Linked DNA regions of Homo sapiens. The protein of the gene in region 2 purifies or fractionates together with the protein of the main gene of each other region. This does not show direct contact. Each region holds a gene or a part of one and is shown on either strand. Other genes may lie near its edges.

Region 1 (7,835 bases), on a different chromosome or scaffold from region 2:
AGATTCTCCCCTAGAACCTCAGGAGGGAGGAAGGGAGGGAGCCCTATCACACCTGGTCTTTAGCCCAATGATGCCTGTTTAGGACTTCTGGCCTCCATAACTGTGAGGGAATAAAGGACTCCTGTTTCAAGCCACCAAGTTTGTGGGGATTTGTTATAGCAGACACAGGAAACGAATACACCTTGTTTCTTGAAAGGACTTTTTGAGGTTTGAAGAATTTTTCAGATTTGGCTGAGAGTTTGTGGATTACTGTTTTAGAGGAGGGGAGAAATTCCACCATTTCTCTTGTGAATTGGTTTCCTTGTTACTTGCTATACAAAGATGCTTCACCATAGTTCCATTTAAATATATCTGTCCTGTTCAATTTGCTATAGAACTGAAATTACTGTAGTGAACCACATATTTAAATATGGAAAGGCTGAACCTCAGAAAGCTGTTAGGAAAGCTAAGAATGTGGAAGTGAATGCTCATGCTACACCAGAAGAGGAGAACTGGTACCGAGTAAGAGCTGAATTCTCATTGATTGATTTACGTGCTTGATGAATTGGCTGATAGTTTAACTCTACAGGAAAAGCACAGTTACAGTAACCAAGAAAAGTAGTTATTTCATAAGTGGTTTTATATGAACCTCAAATCATAAACAGGCTGTTTGCTATACGATTATCAATGGTGACAAACCATTTTGCAAGTGGACAGTTTGCTGGATAATGCTTCTTAAGAGTAATTCTTGGCTCAGTGAATTTAAACAAATCGGAGGGGGTTATTATACTGGGGAGAGGTGTTAAGTGATGTCAGGGTCTTGAATGCCACCACACTAAGTTTGCCAGTTCCCCTATGGTTTAAAATTTCCGGAGACTGGGTAAAGAATCACATCCTCTTTTATTTATTTATTTATTTTTGAGACAGAGTCTCACTCTGTTGCCCAGGCTAGAGTGCAATGGCGCAATCTCGGCTCACTGCAACCTCCACCTCTCCGCGATTCTCCTGCCTCAGCCTCCCAAGTAGCTGGGACTACAGGCATGCACCACCACACCTGCCTAACTTTTTTTGTATTTTTAGTAGAGACAGGGTTTCACTATGTTGGCCAGGCTTGTTTCAAACTCCTGACCTCAAGTAATCCACCCACTTCAGCCTCCCAAAGTGCTAGGATTACAGACGTGAGCCACCATGGCTGGCCTATATCCTCTTTTAATAGTGAGTAAAAGAAAGCTACACAGATGCACGTGAGAATATACTTTCACAGGCACTGCGTTTTAAATAGGAATCAGGAAGTTCTGCCAACTCCATTTTATTAAAGGCATAACCAAGGCTTGGTTGCTTCACTAACATGTGACTGTTCTAAAAATTATCACTCATCAAAATTATTTTGCAAAGAAATAGGAATAGAAGAGTAGGGAAAGAAACAAATATTTAAATACAACTGTCCTGGCTAGTAATACCACATTTCTGTAATGCATTTTTTTACAGATGTGTATAAATAGATATAAATAGGTGTCCTAAGTTGGAGCAATAACGTCTTCCACCCTCTTGCTTATTGGCTTTCTCCCATATTTCTTCTGCATTTACATATTTCTGGTATAATTTTAGATTTGGGGCACACTTGGTTTGAAAAGGGTCTATGTTTTCTCCACTACTTTTGTCTCACATTCCAAAAAACAAAGGGGATGCCATTCTTCAGGGCAGCACCTGCCACTCATCTGCTGTCAGGCTATTGCTTAAGGCACAGATCTTAATGGCCTGGCAGGTTTCTCCACCCTACAATCTTAGGGAGCTGTGGCCCAAGGGCAACTGTAAAACCCACGTGTTAGAATAACTTAGCTTTCTTGTGATAGACTGAGTAAACAAATAGACAATGGCCATAGTATATGGCAATAGAACTCTGACCCACAGAAGAAATGAAGCATAATATCTGCAGAGACCAACTCAGAACAGTCAGGACTTACTCAGTGGCTGACAGCTTCCTCATTTTTGCCTCTGCTTCCAACCCAGGACAAACCAGAAAAACCAAATATACTCCACAAACAAATCACATAAGACGCTCCATCTCTAGTTATCCCTCCTTCAGCTTCTCCATGACGACACTCTGCAAAGAGGACATAGCTGAAGTTGCCCCCTTTTTCCCCTAAAGCTTTTCTTCTCCCTCGTCTTTGAATTATCTCCTTTGTTATAGCAAGTTCTGAATATATGGCCTCTGTTTGTTCTTAGGTGGTGGTCTTCATTTATTTCCACATGTGAATGATGATTGTGTTCAACACAATGATTAATTTTTAAAAAAGAAAAAAAACAGCTATTTGCAGTACAAGATGCTTTTTTTTTTTTTTTGAGACGGCAAATTTGCAGTACAAGTACAAGATGCTTTTTTTTTTTTTTTTTTTTTTTTGGGACGGCATCTCGCTCTGTCACCCAGGTTGGAGTGCAGTGGCGCATGCTCTGCTCCGCTCACTACAACCTCAGTCTCCCAAGTAGTTGGGACTACAGGCATGCATCACCATGCCTGGCTAATTTTTGTTTGTTTGTTTTGTATTTTTGGTAGAGGTGTGATTTCGCCATGTTGCCCAGGCTGGTCTCAAACTCCCAGGCTCAGGAGATCCACCTACCTTGGCCTGCAATACAATATACTTTTGTATTTTTTATATAACCACCTGACAGCTTTGGCCCCTAGTTGTATTTGAGAGGGAAAAGCTGCTATTTATTTAAAGGAAGGACATATAATTATTAATAAATTGATTTTTAAAAAGATGTATTTGCCTGATGGTGCTTCTGAAAAGTTGTCAGTTTAATTGTTTTTAATTTGTTAAAAGAAAATCCATAGCCAAATTAAATTTAAGAGAATTTAATTGAGCAAAAAACAATTCGTGAATCTGGCAGCCTCCAGTGCCAGAGTAGGCTCAGAGAGACTCCAGTGCAGCCACATGGGGGAAGATTTATAGACAGAAAAGGGCAAGTGAGGCACAGAAACTGCAGGATTGGATACAGCTCCATGTTTGCCTTATTTGAACATGGTTTGAACAACTGAACCTCTTTGATTTACAGAAATTCGGGGATAGGCACAAGAGCAGGCTACAGTCTGTTTACACCTCCATTTAGATTACAATTCGCTATGTACAGAGAAACCTTTAGGCCAAACTTAAATCACATGGGGAGGCAGCTTTAGGCTAAACTTGATTTCACAAATTTTCAAATTAACAAGTAAAAACTGTGGATATTATTCAATTTAATCTTTAAGAGTTTATTAATCAATATGCATTATAACTTCATTTTTGTAAAAACAAAAAAAGATATGCCTAGAAAAGGGTTATGGAGAGGGCACAAGGGACGTTTATTTTCTAAAACATATTTTTTATAATGGATTTTTTTATATAACTTTAAAAAGAATTAGAAACGTTTCTGAATTATTAATGATTTCCTTAAATCTTTAGCTACATATATTTCTCCATAAAGAGCAGTTCCTCAAACTGCATCACCTCAACCCTGATATTATATATTTTTATTTTTATTTTTATTTTTTGAGACAGAGTTTCGCTCTGTCACCAGTCTGGAGTGCAGTGGCACGATCTCAGCTCACTGCAACCTCCGCCTCTCGGGTTCAAGCAATTCTCCTGCCTCAGCCTCCTGAGTAGCTGGGACTACAGGCGCCCGCCACCACGCCCAGCTAATTTTTGCATTTTTAGTAGAGACAGGGTTTCACCATGTTGGCCAGGATGGTCTCGATATCATGACCTCGTGATCCGCCCGCCTCGGCCTCCCAAAGTGCTGGGATTACAGGTGTAAGCCACCGCGCCCGGCCGGTATTAAACATTTTTAAAGTAAATTTATTAAATCTCAAAAGAAGCACACTTTGAATACTGAGGAAGAGACGTTGTAACCCATAAGCAGAGAGTAGGTAAGTAAAAGCAATTTCCACCACTCTCAGACTGGGCGTAGTGGCTCACGCCTGTAATCCCACCACTTTTGGGAGGCTGAGAGGGGAGGATCGCTTGAGGCCAGGAATTCAAGAGCAGCCTAAGGAAACTTAGCCAAACTCCATTTCTACAAAAGAAAAATTTTTAAAGCAATTTATTTCACCATTCTCAACGCTTTTCTCTTTTTTATTAACCAAATATTTCTGTAACTCTTTTTTTTTTTTTTTTTTTTTTTTTTGGTATTGAAAGACATGGGAGAAGGAAGAATTCCTGAATGCAACAGACTGGGAAGGACGCACCACAAAACGCTCCGCGGTCTCTGGACACCCTATCAGCTAGTCCCGTCCCTCCTGGTGTCCGGTCTCGACCATCCATCCCGTGTTTTGGGAGTGCCTTTCCTTACCAGATTCTTCTAAAGCCCTGATGCACCCACCCTTAAGTGGAAGGTAATGCTTCTGCTGGGGGCTGTGCGTTCTTCCACTCCGTCCCACCTTTGCCGTGGACTAAACAGGAGCCACTGAACGAGAGTACCCTGGCTCCCGGCCCTGCAGATTTTCACCAAAAACTCTAGGACTAAGTTAAAGTAGGGACTGAAATACCACACAGAGCTCGCTGTAAACCACCCGCTCAGCGCAGTAAGTCGGGATAGTCAGTAGATCTGAGCCCTTGAGGGAGGCGCCTCCCCCTCCTCCGCGCAGCCCCCGGGCGCCCGGCCCAGCTTCCCGCAGCCAGGGTGTATTGAGGTAGGCGCGCCCAGACCTGAGACGGGTTGGGACTGGGCTGCGTCACGCGCGGGCTCTAAGCGCCCGGGGCCCCGCCCAGTGGCCGGCACAGCCAATCGCAGCGCGGGAAGGCGGTGGGGGCGGGGAAGGCCGCCTGGAAACTTAAATCCCGAGGCGGGCGAACCTGCACCAGACCGCGGACGTCTGTAATCTCAGAGGCTTGTTTGCTGAGGGTGCCTGCGCAGCTGCGACGGCTGCTGGTGAGCGCCCCCGACCAGACCGAGGGACAGGGCGAAGGGGGACTGGAGGAGGGAACCCCCCTTTAGGGACACTGAGAGGAGGCGGGCGCTTCTGGGAGTGAGAGCTTCTGCCCGGAGCTCTGCCAGCCTCGAGGTGGGGAACGGGGGAGGGCGGTTGGAGACCCCAGGGAGGCGCCGGCACCACTGGGAGGGCCCGGGCGGGGCAGGTCAGTCATCCTGTGGGCTGAAGCCGGACCGGACCGGGCGGCTTCATGCCCCCAGCCTGGCCGCGGAGCCCCCGCTCCCTGCACCGCCGCAAACATTCTCGGGGCGCGGCGGCGCGTGCAGAGGGCGAGAGCAGGCGGTGCGGCCCCGGTCCTGGCCCGCCCGGAGCTCCGGGAGCTGCCTGCCTCGGTCCGGGCCCTGGCCCTGGGGCCCCTGGCTTCCAGCGGCGCGGCCTTGTGACCCTGCCCCGGTTTAGGGGAGCGAGTAGCACAGACCCAAGTGTGGGACGGCGGGAATAGTGGGTGCTCTCCTTCCCAGTGTCTCCTGGAAAGGGATTCCCGAAAGGTTTTATTCCAAAAGGAGAGGTTGGAAGACATAGCTCATCTCCTGCTGTGTATCAGCCAAGAAGGTGTGAGGTGGTGTTCCTTGGGGATCCGCTTGCATCTACTTGGGATGGTACGTCTTCATTAGTGAGGTTTTGCCTGGATGACCTCAGTACAATTGGTGCAAAACCTGGACCAACTCTTTCCTAGTTTTCTAGTTGTTGCCTTAAGCTTCTCACCCGTCAGGTATCTTTCACACCCTTCTCATACCCTAAATTATCGCATATGCTGTTTCAACGCCTCCAACTCTGCAGGCTGCTTTTAATTTTGGTGGGCCCATCAAATACCTCCACTTGGCCTGTTTCAGCCTCTTCCACAGTCCTTGGGGAAATGCTAGGGAGAATAATTGAAATATTTCTATTCCACGGGGGCTGTAAGATGGCTTTTTAGGATTGGTCTAATCAGATACTCATTTCTTTTCTCTTTCTAGGTTTTGAAACATGAATCTTTCGCTCGTCCTGGCTGCCTTTTGCTTGGGAATAGCCTCCGCTGTTCCAAAATTTGACCAAAATTTGGATACAAAGTGGTACCAGTGGAAGGCAACACACAGAAGATTATATGGCGCGGTTGGTAACATCTGAAACTGTCCAGAGGGACTCTGGAGAGAATGGTCCTCGCTGTTGGGAGTTGATAGCCAGAGAGTAGCTTCTAGACACCAGACCTTACCAGGCAATAACCTAACAGCACCCATTATAGGTGCAATATGGGCATATATCTCCATTGTGTCTTGGCTTGGAGAACAGCTCCCAGAGAAGTATCAACCCATCCCTGGCCATGGTTTCTCTTCCATTTCTGCCCGCAAATCGGCTTGGTGAACATGGGTTGGGTAAGTAGACATAAAGTCCACCAGCTATATGTTTGCCTCTAGAATGAAGAAGGATGGAGGAGAGCAGTGTGGGAAAAGAATATGAAAATGATTGAACTGCACAATGGGGAATACAGCCAAGGGAAACATGGCTTCACAATGGCCATGAATGCTTTTGGTGACATGGTGAGTGTGGCAAGGATTGCTGAACTCTGTGCTGCTTCTCAGTTCTTCACCAAAATAGTCTTGCTTTTAACATTTTATTTACTTCTCCTTGAAGACCAATGAAGAATTCAGGCAGATGATGGGTTGCTTTCGAAACCAGAAATTCAGGAAGGGGAAAGTGTTCCGTGAGCCTCTGTTTCTTGATCTTCCCAAATCTGTGGATTGGAGAAAGAAAGGCTACGTGACGCCAGTGAAGAATCAGGTGAGACAGCGTCAGATTCAGACCCTGTCTCCACAGGAAAGCCAAGAAGGAATTGGTGTCATTGCTGTGGTAGATGGTGGCACAACATATGGTGATGGGTTTTTTGTATTTTTGGTTTTTGGTGTTTTTTTTGTTTGCTTGTTTGAGACGGAGTTTAGCTCTTGTTGCCCAGGCTGGATTGCAATGGCGTGATCTCGTCTCACTGCAACCTCTGCCTCCTGGGTTCAAGAGATTCTCCTGCCTCCACCTCCCGAGTAGCTGGGATTGCAAGTGCTCACCACCATGCCCAGCTAATTTTTGTGTATTTTTAGTAGCGACAGGGTTTCACCATGTTGGCCAGGCGGATTTCAAACTCCTCTCCTCAAGTGATCTGCCCGCCTCGGCCTCCCAAAGTGTGGCGATGGGTTTTTTTTTTTTTTAAAGAATATTAAGGTAATTCAATTATGGGGTACTGTATTTGTATTGGTCTTGTAAATTTACAGCTTTTTTTTTCTCCCTTTTTAGAAACAGTGTGGTTCTTGTTGGGCTTTTAGTGCGACTGGTGCTCTTGAAGGACAGATGTTCCGGAAAACTGGGAAACTTGTCTCACTGAGCGAGCAGAATCTGGTGGACTGTTCGCGTCCTCAAGGCAATCAGGGCTGCAATGGTGGCTTCATGGCTAGGGCCTTCCAGTATGTCAAGGAGAACGGAGGCCTGGACTCTGAGGAATCCTATCCATATGTAGCAGTGGTAAATGGAGCTCCTTATCTTGTCATTCGTGCTCTGCTTTTGGAAAGTGGAACACTTTCAGAGATAACAGATACTTTTTTCAGAATTCACATTTTATATGGTAGAATCTACATCTGCAAACCGTGAGTATTGTCATTATAAATTATTAGCCTTTGGCCAGGCGTGGTGGATCACCTGTAATCCCAGCAGTTTGGGAGGCCGAGACAGGCGGATCACGAGGTCAGGAGATCAAGACAATCCTGGCTAACACAGTGAAACCCCGTCTCTACTAAAAATACAAAAAAATTAGCCCGGCCTGGTGGCGGGTGCCCGTAGTCCCAGCTACTCAGGAGACTGAGGCAGGAGAATGACGTGAACCCGGGAGGCGGAGCTTGCAGTGAGCCAAGATCGCACCACTACACTC
Region 2 (7,025 bases):
TTTTGAGTAATTTATTTAAATTTGTGAATCTAGAAAATGTGTGTTATATATTTATATACAGGGAATAACAAAAGTTAAGTGTTTAATTGGAAAGAAAACTGTGACTGATAATATGTTGTAATTACCATTTTATAATATTACTTTCCATTGCAATGACTTAAAATGAAGAAATAAGAATAGGAATAATTATGCTAACAAATTCACTTTGTTTTCTGTGCCACTAAATTTCTTTAGGATCAAGAACTCTTTCATATTCAGACATTAAACAATATTCAAATAATTTTATAAAATAGACATACAAGTTTACTCATATTAAAAAAACAAGTTGATTTTCATTTCCTGTAGAAAAACCAAAACAGAGCAGATGTGCAAGCAAAGATAAATGAAAACACTGGCTGTTTCTCAATAAAGGTGATAGTCTGTTTTTCATACTAACTTATGTACGATATAATAAATAGCCACTAAATGTAGTAACAGGGGGAAACTTGGCTGGAATTGTTCCTTTTGCAAGTCGTAACCAGACTTCCTGCCCATAATTTAATTCTAATAAGGCATCCCCAGTTAAAACCCTATCACAGTGTATTTCACTGTTAATATTTTCAGACTCAAATGCAAGCTTGTCTATTCCATCAACCACTAAAAATCCAGAAATATGAGCACTAAATGACTCGATGGTGTACTTGAAAACATATACTCCAAGATACGGAATTCTAAATTTTCCAGTTCTTGGGGTATATGAAGCTCCATAATTGACATCCAAGTTATTAAACAGGATAGGACCAGGTATAGTCATTCCATACGTATGAGATGCAAAAAATGCCACCATGGGTGCATATCTGTAAGATCCTTTGGAAAAATCTGTTAGAGGAAAAAATGGCAAGAGTTAATTTTCATGTTTTTATCTTATTTTTCTTTCCTTATATCTTCGTCATTTTTATCTCAGTTACAAAAAGTCTTAGCAGAAGAGAAAGGCCATCCATCAAACTTAGCAAAGGTGCACGTGTCTCAATGCCTGTCTCTTCTCTGGGGTAAATTACTCTAAATTGCTTAGCCTCTTGTTGCCTCAGTTTCTCCATTTAGATCAGGACAGAATAAAAATAACATTTGATACCTTCCTCACAGAAATGCCTCAAAGATAATTTGCATGTTGCTTTGATCTCCCCAGAGATAAAGGAATTCAAAGCACTCTATGATTATTATGGTTATGTCAGAATGTTTTAAAGCCCCTTGCAGGAATTGAAGCTGACATGATGTAGAAACAATTTTTCCGGCACCTTGTCAAGCAGTTTCTAAAGGCTAAAACGAAAACCATATAAAGTCATATTCACTGCAGCAAAGTAGACAAAGGCAATTTTCTGTGTAATTAATGCCAATTGTACTTACAAAGGCTGAGATCTAAAAACAGACTAAAAAATTTACATTTCACTATGCAGGATATTATTAAGAAAAAGCTGATTTGAAATAGGTTTTTTTGCAGTCATTAAATAACACATTTTTATGCTGCACATACATTTCTGTATAAAAATCAGAAATGGTGCACTCCTGAAGTAAATCCAAAGCACCAATACTTATGAATTTAAATAAATAAAAAAGCCATCTTGTTTTACTTAATACATTTGAGCATGTTCTAACAGTTCTCACACAGTCAAAATGGTGCCATTAGTTTAACCTTCACAGAAAACGTGTTACTAAGCATGTATTAAAGCCTCATTTAAATGACCATACCAGACATAAATCAAAGGCGTATTTCTTTAACTGCTTGTTTGAGGAGAAAGTGTTTCTATCAGTCAGATATATACATCCATATATTTTTAGGATGCACAAGAGAAAAAAAGTTTGTGAGGGGGTAGAATTTTCCATAAACTGCCTCTATATAGCAATATTGAAAATTTCAACAGGTGCATGTGAATAAGAATTTGCCTAACAAAAGGACATTTCCACTTGTAAATCAGGTACATTCTTCAGTAAGTTTCGAAAAAGTAAAAGGAATTGTCAAGTGGATCCAGATTAAGCAGGCTTAAATATTCATTAATAAATATTTTCAAAACGTGTTTCTATTTATGACAATGAGCAAATCCAAAGATGCGTATACTTTTTTTTTACCTGGAGCTAAAGCATTTTCTTCCACAAGCTTGATAGTGCAGTTGTCACCAGTAAAAGGATGTCTGCAGGCACAGGTAAAGCTAGTTCTTCCATTTATGCACGTGCCCCCATTTTGGCACGGATGCCGACTACAGCTTGAATACTCCTCTGTTACGGAAAAAGAATCAAGGTAAAAGAGAATAAAGTGACCTATTTTCCTGTTGATCTCAAATCGTAGTTTGCAGCAGAATAGGAAAAAGACTGAATTTTAAGTAAGAAAAATGGGCTCCACGGCCCAGGATGCCTGTCGATCTGGGCACAGGACGTCATGCAAATCCCTTAGCTCTGATCTCTCTATCTCCTTCAGTAAAGTGGGCAAAATTCTGTGATCCATTACATTTATTGGTGTGAAATGTTAACATTCTTGTCAACTGCAGAACAGAATAGAATTATCTCAATACAAATCATGTATATTTGAAACTGGTACTTGATAAAGGTAATGCTTTAAATCACTGAGAAGAAAAATATCTGTTCGATACATGGTGCTAAGGTGGTATTGAATATATATTAGAAACATAAATTCCACATATACAAAAATACTAAATATAAAAAAACCAATATGATTGCATTACAACAAAAAAGGAGAATATCTTTCTAGAGCTTTAAAATTTTAAAAAATTCTTTCAAAGCAAAACAAAGCAAAGCAAAGGAAAACAAAACTCAGAAACCATAAGAGAAAAACATTATCATGTTTGACCTAAGAATTAAAACTCATTTGCATTGAAAACCACCATTTTCAAAGTTTAATGATAAGTTACAAAATTAGAAGACATGGCAATCTAATGACTAATATTCATAACATATGAAAAACTCTGAAAAGAAAAAAAAAATTCTCCCTTAAAAATGGAAAATGAGGCCGGGTATGGTGGCTCACACCTGTAACCCCACCACTTCAGGAGGCCAAGGCAAGAGGATGGCTTGAGTCCAGGTGTTTGAGACCAGCCTGAGCAGCATAGTGATACCCCATCTCTAATTTTTTAAATAAAAAATAAATAAAAATAAGAAAATGGTCTTCACTTACAGATCAGAAAAAAATAAGTTAAAAAACGGAGAATGTATCAGTAGGCAAATCATTGAACAAAACCCACAAAAGGTCACTAAAAGTTTTAAAGCATATGCAACCTCATTACTAATTCAGAAATAATAAATTTAGCAATAATAACATTATTTAAATATAAGGTGGCAACATTTAAAAAGATACGTAGAAAATATCCAGTCATGTCAATATAAGGGAAAATGGGCCTTTTCATGCAATGCTGGCTGGAGTGTAAACTGCTATAGCTGTTAATAGGACAATGTGACGATATTTATCAGTATTAAAAAGGTTAATTTACTTTGAGCCAAACATTTCTTCTGGCAGTATATATATACTCCAGACATACTTGTCCATGTGCACAAAGACAATTCTTCAATTCAAAATGATATCACTTGCATTCTTGAAAAATTTAAAGACTCCTAAATGATCACTGATGCAGGACTTGTTAAATAAATTGTAACATATTCCCACTGAGGAATATTAGACAGCAATTAAAGAATGAGGTAGATTCTCCAACAGGTTTGGTTTACTGAAGACAGAAAGTTACAGCTCACACATTACATATAGAATAATTTCATTTGTTGTGAAAGCTTCAAATTATGAATATGGTTATAAACATAATGCATAATTATGTAAATGCAGAAACAAGGTCAGAAGAATTCAGCGCTTATACTACTTGCCACAGTTACTCTGGTGCCACCTTATGGTAATGATGTAGTTTACCATCCACTCATTTCAAACCAGGTGATTGTTGATGATTTTTAATTTGGAAGTTATTTGTTTTGTGTAATATTTTTCTCATGAAGTGAGACCTATAAATTTTTATATACATTTTGTTTCATAGCCATACAATTGAAATTCACATAAAATGTGAACAAACGGCATGCCTGTATTATTAAAATTTTTTGCAAAGCAAATATATTAATATTGTACTTATGTAATGAGAAATTAATCAGAATTATCTTGATATATTCTCTGCAATATTCTATAAACTATTTTCCTTATTAAGAAAAGTATTAAAATATTACATGTGTGTAATACCTTTTAACAAATATTTCGACTGGCTAACATTCCTTTAACCTCACTTTGCTGCATGTGAATAGATTATCAAATCCCTTTTTTGCTGCTCATTAACATTCCAGAACTTTGCCCATTATTTTCCTGCATTAAAAACATCAATGACTTTTCATTACTTATAGTAATGTGAATATTCTGTATCAAAGCATTTGCTTCATTTATTTTTACATTCTCTGAATTTAGCACAGTGATCAACTCACAGGAGAAGTTTCAATTAATGGGTTTCACTAGGAATGTATCAATTGTGCAGTAGAGTTGGGGGGAACACTAACTTATTTATGTAATTTGATCAGCTCTATAATTTTAATTTTCCCAAATATAAAAAATCACAGTCACCTGTAACCTTGGCCCTGTTCATGAATCAGGGATCAAAGCTGTGCTATAAGGAGAACTTAAGAAACTGTGGAAAAAATTAGATTTATCTGCATTGCTGTTGGCTCTACTCTGAATCTTCAGGATCAAGGATTCTGCCTGCTATTTAATGTCCAGGAGCAGCATTCCATTTTTTGCTTCTTTATGTTCCATTACTTTAGGAATTGGGTCTTGCCTTGCTGTAGTTCTTTGAGTCATTTCAGAGGGTGCTATTTTACCCCATTTTCCAATTTCTTTTTAGGGTCATTCATCTGGAGTAGGGCTACACTTAAGTTTAATTGAAGGTCTGCATCTACTACTACTGTTACAGTAGCCCAAACTTCTTGAGACTGCACACAGCTTGCCTTCTAGGACATCTTTCATGGTGCCTACTGATTATCTGCTCAGGATGCCTCAGCCACTTGTCTGTACCTGCTTCGACTGCTTCTGTTTTAAGTTCCTTTCTGTGCCTCTTTTTGCTATTTTAGGTATGTCTGGACTTTCCAAGTCTCTGCCAAAATAATCACATTTTAAAATATAAAATCATGTCCATGGCACCCAGAACTGGACATATTGTACCAGTTGAGCCCAAGCATAGTAGGTTATGGTAGCAATTGCTAGTTACCCCTGCTGAAATGAACTTACACTTCTGTCAAGATAACACAAGCATTAAGTATTCATTGTCTATTTCTGCATCTGTATCACACTGTCTCATAACAGGTCTCCTGTGCTCTGATGTATTGAAGCTTTCTAAAATCTCATGTCTATTTAATTCATTTAAACATGAATTTACAATTATTATTGATAATAAAATTTATCTTATTAGACATGAGTTACCATCTCTGTCCATAGAAAGCATTCAGTTTTATTCTGTATAGATGTTTCAGCCACCCTCCCCTATCTTTGTTATCATTTCCAAATTTATGTCTCATGCGTTCCTCCAAGTTATCGATAAAAATACGTACTAGAAAAAAAATACCTGATGGATTAGTGACAAGTACAGAGCCTTATAACAGACAACTAAAGATTGAATGGCACTGATTTTCCAACTGAAGCTATTTGTACTTTGTTATACAATGAGTTAGAAATCAACTTTTGGCTGGGTACGGTGGCTCACGCCTGTAATCCTAGCACTTTGGGAGGCTGAGGCGGGCAGATCACCTGAGGTCGGGAGTTTGAGATCAGCCTGGCTAACATGGTGAAACCCCATCTCTACTAAAAATACAAAATTAGCTGGGTGTGGTGGTGTGTGCCTGTAATCCCAGCTACTCCGGAGGCTGAGGCAGGAGAATTACTTGAACCCAGGAGGCGGAGGTTGCAGTGAGCCAGGGTCACGCCACTGCACTCCAGCCTGGGCGACGGAGTGAGACTCTATCTCAAAAAACAAAACAAAACAAAATCAACTTTTGTACACCACCTGACTTATTTTTCTCCTTTATTATTAAAACGCTTAAAAAATGGTTAGGTACCTTTATAAGTACCTGCTCATATTTGTGCTTAATAGGCTACTTGTTCTTGAATTACCAACAAAAATCAAACTCCAATAAAGCATCATTTTCTTTATGACATCTTTCCTCATCCCTAGGAGTAAATCACTTTAGTTCTCTCCATTGCTGCCTGATGCTCCAAAGTTGTCTTCTTGAATTCATCACACTCAACTGTAATTGCTTTGGTGTCTTTCTTACTTCCAACAAGAGTATGAGCTTTCATGAGGTCAGGGATCATGTTCTCTATGACTTAAACTTCATATCAACCTTATTAGCACAGTGCCTGACATATAGAAAATACTAAAGTAGTTTTAAAAATGAATAGACAAATTAATAAAAGATGGAATAGAATACCACATTCTTATCAAATTTCAACCTTCTTCCCAGTTTCTCAAATGTCACAGAGTTTGACACTATGCTATCATTGTCATGTTATCCTAGAGACATGAATCTATTTATTTATTTATTTGTTTTATTTTTGAGATGGAGTCTCGCTCTGTCGTCCAGGCTGGAGTGCAGTAGCATGATCTTGGCTCACTGCAACCTCTGCCTCCTGGACTTAAGCTATTCTCCTGCCTCAGCCTCCCAAGTAGCTGGGACTACAGGTGTGCACCACCATGCCAGGCTATTTTTTGTATTTTTAGCAGAGACGGGGTTTCACCGTGTGGGCCAAGCTGGTCTCAAACTTCCAACCTCAGGTGATCCACCTGCCTTGGCCTCCCAAAATGTGGGATTACAGTGTGAGCCACTGTGCCCAGAAGTGAATCCATTTAAGCGAACTTTCCACAACTTCTCCCCTTACCTTGAGCTTCAATAACCTCTTAAACTCCTTCCTGTCCATTTTTTTTAATGGAGATCAGTGCAATTAGTTCAATAGTTCTTCCAAGTCAACATTCTACCACTGTGCAAGTAGCATAACTGATATTTCATTT
Region 3 (7,025 bases), on a different chromosome or scaffold from region 2:
TCAAAGAATCAAGATTTGGGAGGTATAGGAGAATGAGTAGAATTTTTAGTTCTTTTCAGTGACTTAGGCTCCTAGGAAAACCTTTGTGAAACAGAGGTTCTACTCAGGTAAACTCTCAGTGTGATCTAGACCAAGAATGGTTCTGCCAATCAGAGTGCCGACAGCATCTCTGTGAAGAAAGTGCCTGGATTATATAGACACATCACAACTCTCCAAGGAAGGGCTCTAATTTGGAATTACCTCCATCAGCCCATTTTCAATAAGACCTACCTGAGATTCAAACTAGGCCTGACTCTTCCAAAGTCCTCAGGTCACTCAAACTTCAATGTCATGACAGTATCTGGCAACATCACTGCCATATATATGGTGTTCAATGAGTGTTTTTGAAATCTGAATTGGCTTCCCAACTTCCTGAAACCACAATTCTTCTTTATATTTTCTTTCATACCCTGTGTAGGTACTCAAGTCTTTTCTATGTTAGCTGCTATTTCTCAGGGGCTGTAATGTGACCTGTGGTATAAATAAATCCAGGTAATCATAAATGGTCATAATAAAATTCTACTATATATAGCAAGGATGTTTAAGAGTCTTAACTGTTCTTCTTGGACTCTTAAAGCAGTGCTTTCCAATATTTTTTACTTCAAAGCACACAAAGAAAATAATATCTGCCTGGCATTCTGAGGTAAAAGAATGAAGCAATAAATCTAAGGCTTGGCTGATCCAGGCCCCACTTGGCTGCTGAAGGGCTGGAGGTGGGAAGAGGGATCAATAAATAGGTGCACTAGAAACCTGCCGTGGCACACCTGTCAGGAGTTGCAGTACTTCCCTTTGGGTGGAGAGAAGCCACCATGATTCACAATGGAGAAAGTAGCTGAAACCTGGAATCAGTTTCCTGTTGAAGCAGATAATGGCACAGTATACCCTTGGATGGATATGGGTATTTTGCCAATGTCCAGATAGCAGTAGTCTAAAACATCTCCCAAATAAAACACAGATCTTGTATCGGCAGGACCACTCCTTGAAACAGTTCCATAAGTCATTGCGTTTTTTTCTTTCCATATGGTATAAATAGATTTGTTCAGATCCTAATAAACTACCCTAAAATGTGACATTCAATTCTGCTAACTTATTTAAAACATCTATTTTTTATACAAGAAGCATTATTTTCTTCTTATTCATTTTCTTGATACTTAGGTAATTATTAGCAGTGGGTATTATTTTTAGGACCCTTTGTTTTTTTCATGGAGAAAGTAAGGCATCACTTCAAGAAAATTTCTGCATGATTTACCAACAAGAACAAAGTGTCACAGAGATGATGGGTGGTCAGCCAGGTTCACTCACTAGCTGTGTTTCTTACAGTCACAGGTCTGCCTTGCTGCCTATGATATTCAAATTACACCTTGGAAAAATTCCAAAGGGTACATAACTCGAATTACCCTCTAAGGGTTGAAACAGAAAATATTAAATAGTGACTGAGGGTCCATTGTATCTTCTTGGTAGCTTTTGTTAGAAGAAACAGAGTATTTTTATATATAGATAATTTAGGATTATTGTCACCTGAAAGCAAAGACCAAAGTTTCCAAGACTCTCAGAAGGAGGAAGTGAGTTTAAATGTTTAGAACATGGTATTTGGTATCAGATTGTCTGAACTCAATTCAGTTTCTGATTCTTGTGGCTGTGTTACCTTAGACAAGTTACTGTGTTTTGGCTGTACTAAAATGGAGATATTTATGAGCATTATATAATACATGTAAAGCCTGAGAACAGTATTTGGCACTTGGATTCAATAAATCTTCATTGTTGTGGTTATTGTTTTTGTCATTTGTTGGTAGTAATATTATTTCTTATCTCCTCTGCAGTGCATGAAGCCATGCAGGGAATATTGGTGTGTAATTAATCACGTTACTTTTCTTTTGATAGGATGTTCCACACCCCTGGGTATGGAAAATGGAAAGATAGAAAACAAGCAAATCACAGCTTCTTCGTTTAAGAAATCTTGGTGGGGAGATTACTGGGAACCCTTCCGTGCCCGTCTGAATGCCCAGGGACGTGTGAATGCCTGGCAAGCCAAGGTCAAGTATACTCTATGCATGGTGTTCTCTTAGGGCTCCAGAAGAAAGCAAAGGCCCTCACTACCACAAACATGGAGGATCTGGGAAGCAGGAGTATTTTAATCTGTTTCTGCAGATTAAAATCCTAGGTCCAAGAGTCCAGGATGTCTGTGGACTTGATAGCTTTGACTATAACTTTGTCTCAGAGAGAAGTCATTTATCATCTCTGTGGTTTTTGGTCTAGTCTTGATTTAAACCAATAATAAGCAAATTAATTTTTCTGCAAAGGGATAGATGGTAAATATTTTAGTCTTTGTGGGCCATACATTCTCTGCCATAACTACTCAACTCTGCCATTGTAGCAGTAAAGTAGCCATAAACAATATGTAAATGAATGAGCTGGCTGTGTTCTAATAAAACTTTGTTTACAAAAAACAGGCAGCGGGCCAAATTTGGCCCATGGATCATAGTTTGCCAACTCCTCATTTAGACAGCTTACATTAGTGATAAAAAAATGATTTAGATTTGCAACATCATCTCTTATTTTTTCTTTACAATTTAGCAATATTTTTTCATTTTCCTAAATGAAATGTCATCTAAACTTTTTTGTTCTCTTCCCCGCCCTCCTTATTTTAAGAGCTTTGTGATATTCCTTGAGGCAACTAGAAGCATAGTAAAATGTTGCAAAACCAGAGTTATAAAATCAGTGATCTAAGTTAAACAAACACCTTCCAGAGAGTTATACTGTCCCTGATATTAGCCCACTGAGTAATTCAGGTGATTTAATTTGGGGGTAACTCTTAATATTTGACTCATTTTTATTAATTCTTTAAATGACCTGAGATATCAGAATGGCATGAATAACTTGATGATCCCTTCAGCCAACTAAATCCAAATTCCCTAATTTCTATCCTCATATCTCCCTCCCTTAAGATACCTACACTCCAATTTCCTGGCTTTCTATAGAATTCCAGGGCCTATCCTTAAATTAGGCCACTAGAAAGGAAAAAAGAATTGTGGTGCTGGTGGCGTAAATAGAAAAGATTGGATTCCACACAGTCTTGGGAACTGATATCTGTGTCTTGAAACTCATTCTGGCCCAATATGGAATCACAGAATGTTACAGTAGCAAGGAGCAAAGCATCTGGTCTAGATTTTTCCTTTTAATTCTAAATACACAGGAGATTAAATAATTTTAGCTTAGTTTGGTAGCAGAATCAGGACTAGAATCCCATTCTCCCAGTAAACAGGCCATGCTCCTTCCACCATTTGAAGCAGCCCAAATACCTCATTTTGCAATTTTGCAGAGGGCAAAGCTGACACCCAGAGAAGTTAAAATAATAAAAATAGTGTTATATTACATTTATATAATTTACATAGCAATATAAATAATAATTAAAGAGATGTTATCCAATTCTTTTTCAGATGACTCTTTAGACTTGTTCATGGTATAACCTTGTCACTCCATACTTCATTTTACAATCTTTTAAAAAAATTTGCACTCTCTATAATTTGCTCTTAGTCTTTGTGATATAACAAGGGCCTCAAAGATAAAATGCTAATTTTTAATGGTGTCATTTCAAAGTTAGAATTCGGGATCAGAAATATGTGTTTTACTTAACCCCCTTCCATTCACATGAAATGTCTTTATATGGTCTCTTTAGAGAGGTTGAAAATCAAAGCTGGACATATGCAGTGATGCACATAGATGCTGTTCTCTCCATAACTAAAATGTCTCTACCTCTTTTATGCCTGTGAAAACCTCTAGCTGGTTATACTCTGCATCACTGGTACAACCTTGATATGAAGACACACTAAGATACCACCCAGATGTCACTAGAGGATGTTATAGACTTAAAAGTTTTCTCATATAATCATTCTAATTCAGTTAATTTGCTTTTAAAATACATATAGCATGTGAATTTTTGTGTATACACATATATACACATACACCTATATATACACATACACTTATGTATGTGTGGGTGATGTTGAAGAAACATATCAATATTATTTCCTTTAGAATTGAATGAGGTTATGGTAGACGATAAATCTCCCAAAGGTAAAAATTTATCTTAGATGACTCTAAAACTCAGTTTAGACCTTCTGATCTTTCTCCAAACACATATCACCAACCATGTGATTAGGCATTTTGTTAGGCCAGAGACAGGACAATAACTGTACTGTGTATCAAGCTCTACTTATGGTTTTATCAGGTCTCTCAAATGTTACATTTATTTGAAATATTAGAAGAAATTGAACTATTTCTGCTCTTTGACATTAACAGGGGGAAAGAGAAGTTGTGTTTTGTAAAACAGGTGAAATAGAGAGAGAATGCTATCCAATTATTTCCCAGATAACCCTGCAGCAATATTACCAGAGTATTTAAAGAAATTTGCTTAAGAAAATAATATTCACAGATAATTTAGCAGTTTAATTATTTTTCCAAATAAAGCTCATTTATTCATTCATTTATTCAACAACTATTTATTGAACACCAACTGAGTGTCTTAACATTGTGGTGAGTACCAGGAAACAAAATGAAATAAGCCTCTACCCTTAAGCAGTAAGGAATGCTAAGAAGGAAACAATTATAGTACAATGTGTGAAATACTTCAATAAAAATTTACACACATATTGTGGCAATGAAGAAGAAAGAGGGAAAGCTTCTAGGAGACTGTGAATCCTAAGGGATAAGATAGAACAAAATCCTTTTGAGCTCTGTGCTTTTTTGCATAACTTGGTCTAAAAAAAAAGCAAAGGTTTTAACATCTTCCTTATCTATGTGTTTTTGTCATTTTCATAGGCAAACAACAATAAGCAGTGGCTAGAAATTGATCTACTCAAGATCAAGAAGATAACGGCAATTATAACACAGGGCTGCAAGTCTCTGTCCTCTGAAATGTATGTAAAGAGCTATACCATCCACTACAGTGAGCAGGGAGTGGAATGGAAACCATACAGGCTGAAATCCTCCATGGTGGACAAGGTAGAGTGGCATCTGGGCAAAGAGAAAGCAATCTGAAGACTGTGCTATAATGAGAATAACAGTATTTTGCATTTGACAAATATGCAGTGACATGTACCACCTCTTTAAGTCTTCTAAATCTTAGTTCTTAAGGTGCCTGGTCTCAGACAAACTCCTGGTTGTCTGTTTTGGTTTGTTTTATTTCTCACTACACCAGGTTGCCCTCATAGGAGGATAAATATCATTGTCATAAAAAAAAAGAGTGATTTTATTTCTGGTGTGTGTAAACCTTGGGGAACTTGCTGATGATGGAAGGGGGAAAGTTATACACTTTAGTTGAGGATATAAGGTACATGCCAACAAGAATAAATAAATTAAAATGCATGGTCACATTTTAAATGTTAGCAATAGTCAAACATTTATTGGTGGCCACTTCCTGGCACTTACTATGCACTTACGTTGACATACATTTTTAAATATTTACAATGACTTCTGTGAGGTAAAATGTTATTATCCTTATTTTGCCAATGAGGAAATGAAGAATCAGAGAATAAGTAACTTGTTCAGTCATACAGCTAATACAGACGGGCTGAAGGCAGAAATGGTTTTGCAGCTGCTCCACAGCACCATGTGAGACTTGTTTATTTTTCACTAATTTAAGTCAGATCACTGGTGAGATGAAATCTATCTGGCATGTGATTTCATAACTGATAGAGGATCATCTCTGTGAGAGTGTTCTATGTGTTCTTTGATATGCTCATTTTGAGCTAATAGGATAAAAAATTTTCTGGGTTGGGCATGATGGCTCATGTCTGCAATGCCAGCACTTTGGAAGGCTGAGGCAAGAGGATTACTTGAGAGGAGTTTAAGGCTGCAGTGAGCCATGACTGTGCCACTGGACTCAAGCCTGGGCAACAGAATAAGACCCTGTCTAAAAAAAAACAAAAACAAAAAACCTTAGCCATTTATGTTGTCATTAAAGATTTTCTCTTATTTGGCTTTCAGATTTTTGAAGGAAATACTAATACCAAAGGACATGTGAAGAACTTTTTCAACCCCCCAATCATTTCCAGGTTTATCCGTGTCATTCCTAAAACATGGAATCAAAGTATTGCACTTCGCCTGGAACTCTTTGGCTGTGATATTTACTAGAATTGAACATTCAAAAACCCCTGGAAGAGACTCTTTAAGACCTCAAACCATTTAGAATGGGCAATGTATTTTACGCTGTGTTAAATGTTAACAGTTTTCCACTATTTCTCTTTCTTTTCTATTAGTGAATAAAATTTTATACAAGAAGCTTTTATAATGTAACTCCTTGCTACCAGTAAGTAAGATAATGGCTATTACTTCTGCATTAATTTGAATACAGGTAGGAAAATATCAAGAACCAACAAGAAAAGGGCTTATCTTTCTTAATGATTGAAAATGCTATGAAGTAATATTTATGTAGTTAAAATGCTTCATTATAACTCTTTTAAATCCTTTACACACTAGTAAAACAGATATTACTTTAAATAATAATTGATAGACCTGGATAACTTTCACAAACACATGATTTTTTAATGGTTTTTCTTGAGTGAAGAGAAAAACAATATTATCAAATGAAATAAGTACTTAAAATATCCTGTCTTTCCCATATAACAATGATTTTTCTGACTTTCCATGAGTAAAAAAACAGCCAAGCATCTTTCCAGTAGCCCCATTGAAATTGTGAATCCGTCCTGGTCTCCCTAAGGACTGCACACATTGATATTCAAGGTTGGTGGTCATTAGATATGGAACAGAACTGAAATAACCATGGTAGAACTGAATGTGTAATGTTGGCTTTATTCTAGCTGGTACTACATGGCACACAGTTTCAAAACATAATTTCACCTACTGGAAAGCTCAGACCTGTAAAACAGAGCATGGGAACTGCTGGTCTAAATGCAGTTGTTCCTGCTCAAAGAGACCTCTGGCCAAACTGGCAAGCAGTTAAAGTTTTCTTTCAGGGCCTTCCTCTC

The links. The genes of interacting proteins can lie anywhere in the genome.
Region 1: the proteins of MMRN1 (region 2) and CTSV purify together in Homo sapiens (affinity purification with mass spectrometry; 3 studies listed by BioGRID and IntAct, with this or other methods). This does not show direct contact.
Region 3: the proteins of MMRN1 (region 2) and F5 purify together in Homo sapiens (affinity purification with mass spectrometry; 3 studies listed by BioGRID and IntAct, with this or other methods). This does not show direct contact.

The regions. Positions count from the first base shown.
Region 1 is NC_000009.12:97,036,120-97,043,954, reverse strand, and holds the start of CTSV (cathepsin L2 preproprotein), read left to right. Parts: upstream 1-4,812; 5' UTR 4,813-4,884; intron 4,885-5,901; 5' UTR 5,902-5,911; coding exon 5,912-6,037; intron 6,038-6,339; coding exon 6,340-6,462; intron 6,463-6,556; coding exon 6,557-6,703; intron 6,704-7,207; coding exon 7,208-7,432; intron 7,433-7,835. UniProt on the Homo sapiens protein: Cysteine protease. May have an important role in corneal physiology.
Region 2 is NC_000004.12:89,946,830-89,953,854, reverse strand, and holds part of MMRN1 (multimerin-1 isoform 1 precursor), read right to left. Parts: intron 2,251-7,025; coding exon 2,104-2,250; intron 859-2,103; coding exon 437-858; 3' UTR 1-436. UniProt on the Homo sapiens protein: Carrier protein for platelet (but not plasma) factor V/Va. Plays a role in the storage and stabilization of factor V in platelets. Upon release following platelet activation, may limit platelet and plasma factor Va-dependent thrombin generation.
Region 3 is NC_000001.11:169,513,459-169,520,483, reverse strand, and holds part of F5 (coagulation factor V preproprotein), read left to right. Parts: intron 1-1,920; coding exon 1,921-2,072; intron 2,073-4,857; coding exon 4,858-5,040; intron 5,041-6,024; coding exon 6,025-6,171; 3' UTR 6,172-7,025. UniProt on the Homo sapiens protein: Central regulator of hemostasis. It serves as a critical cofactor for the prothrombinase activity of factor Xa that results in the activation of prothrombin to thrombin.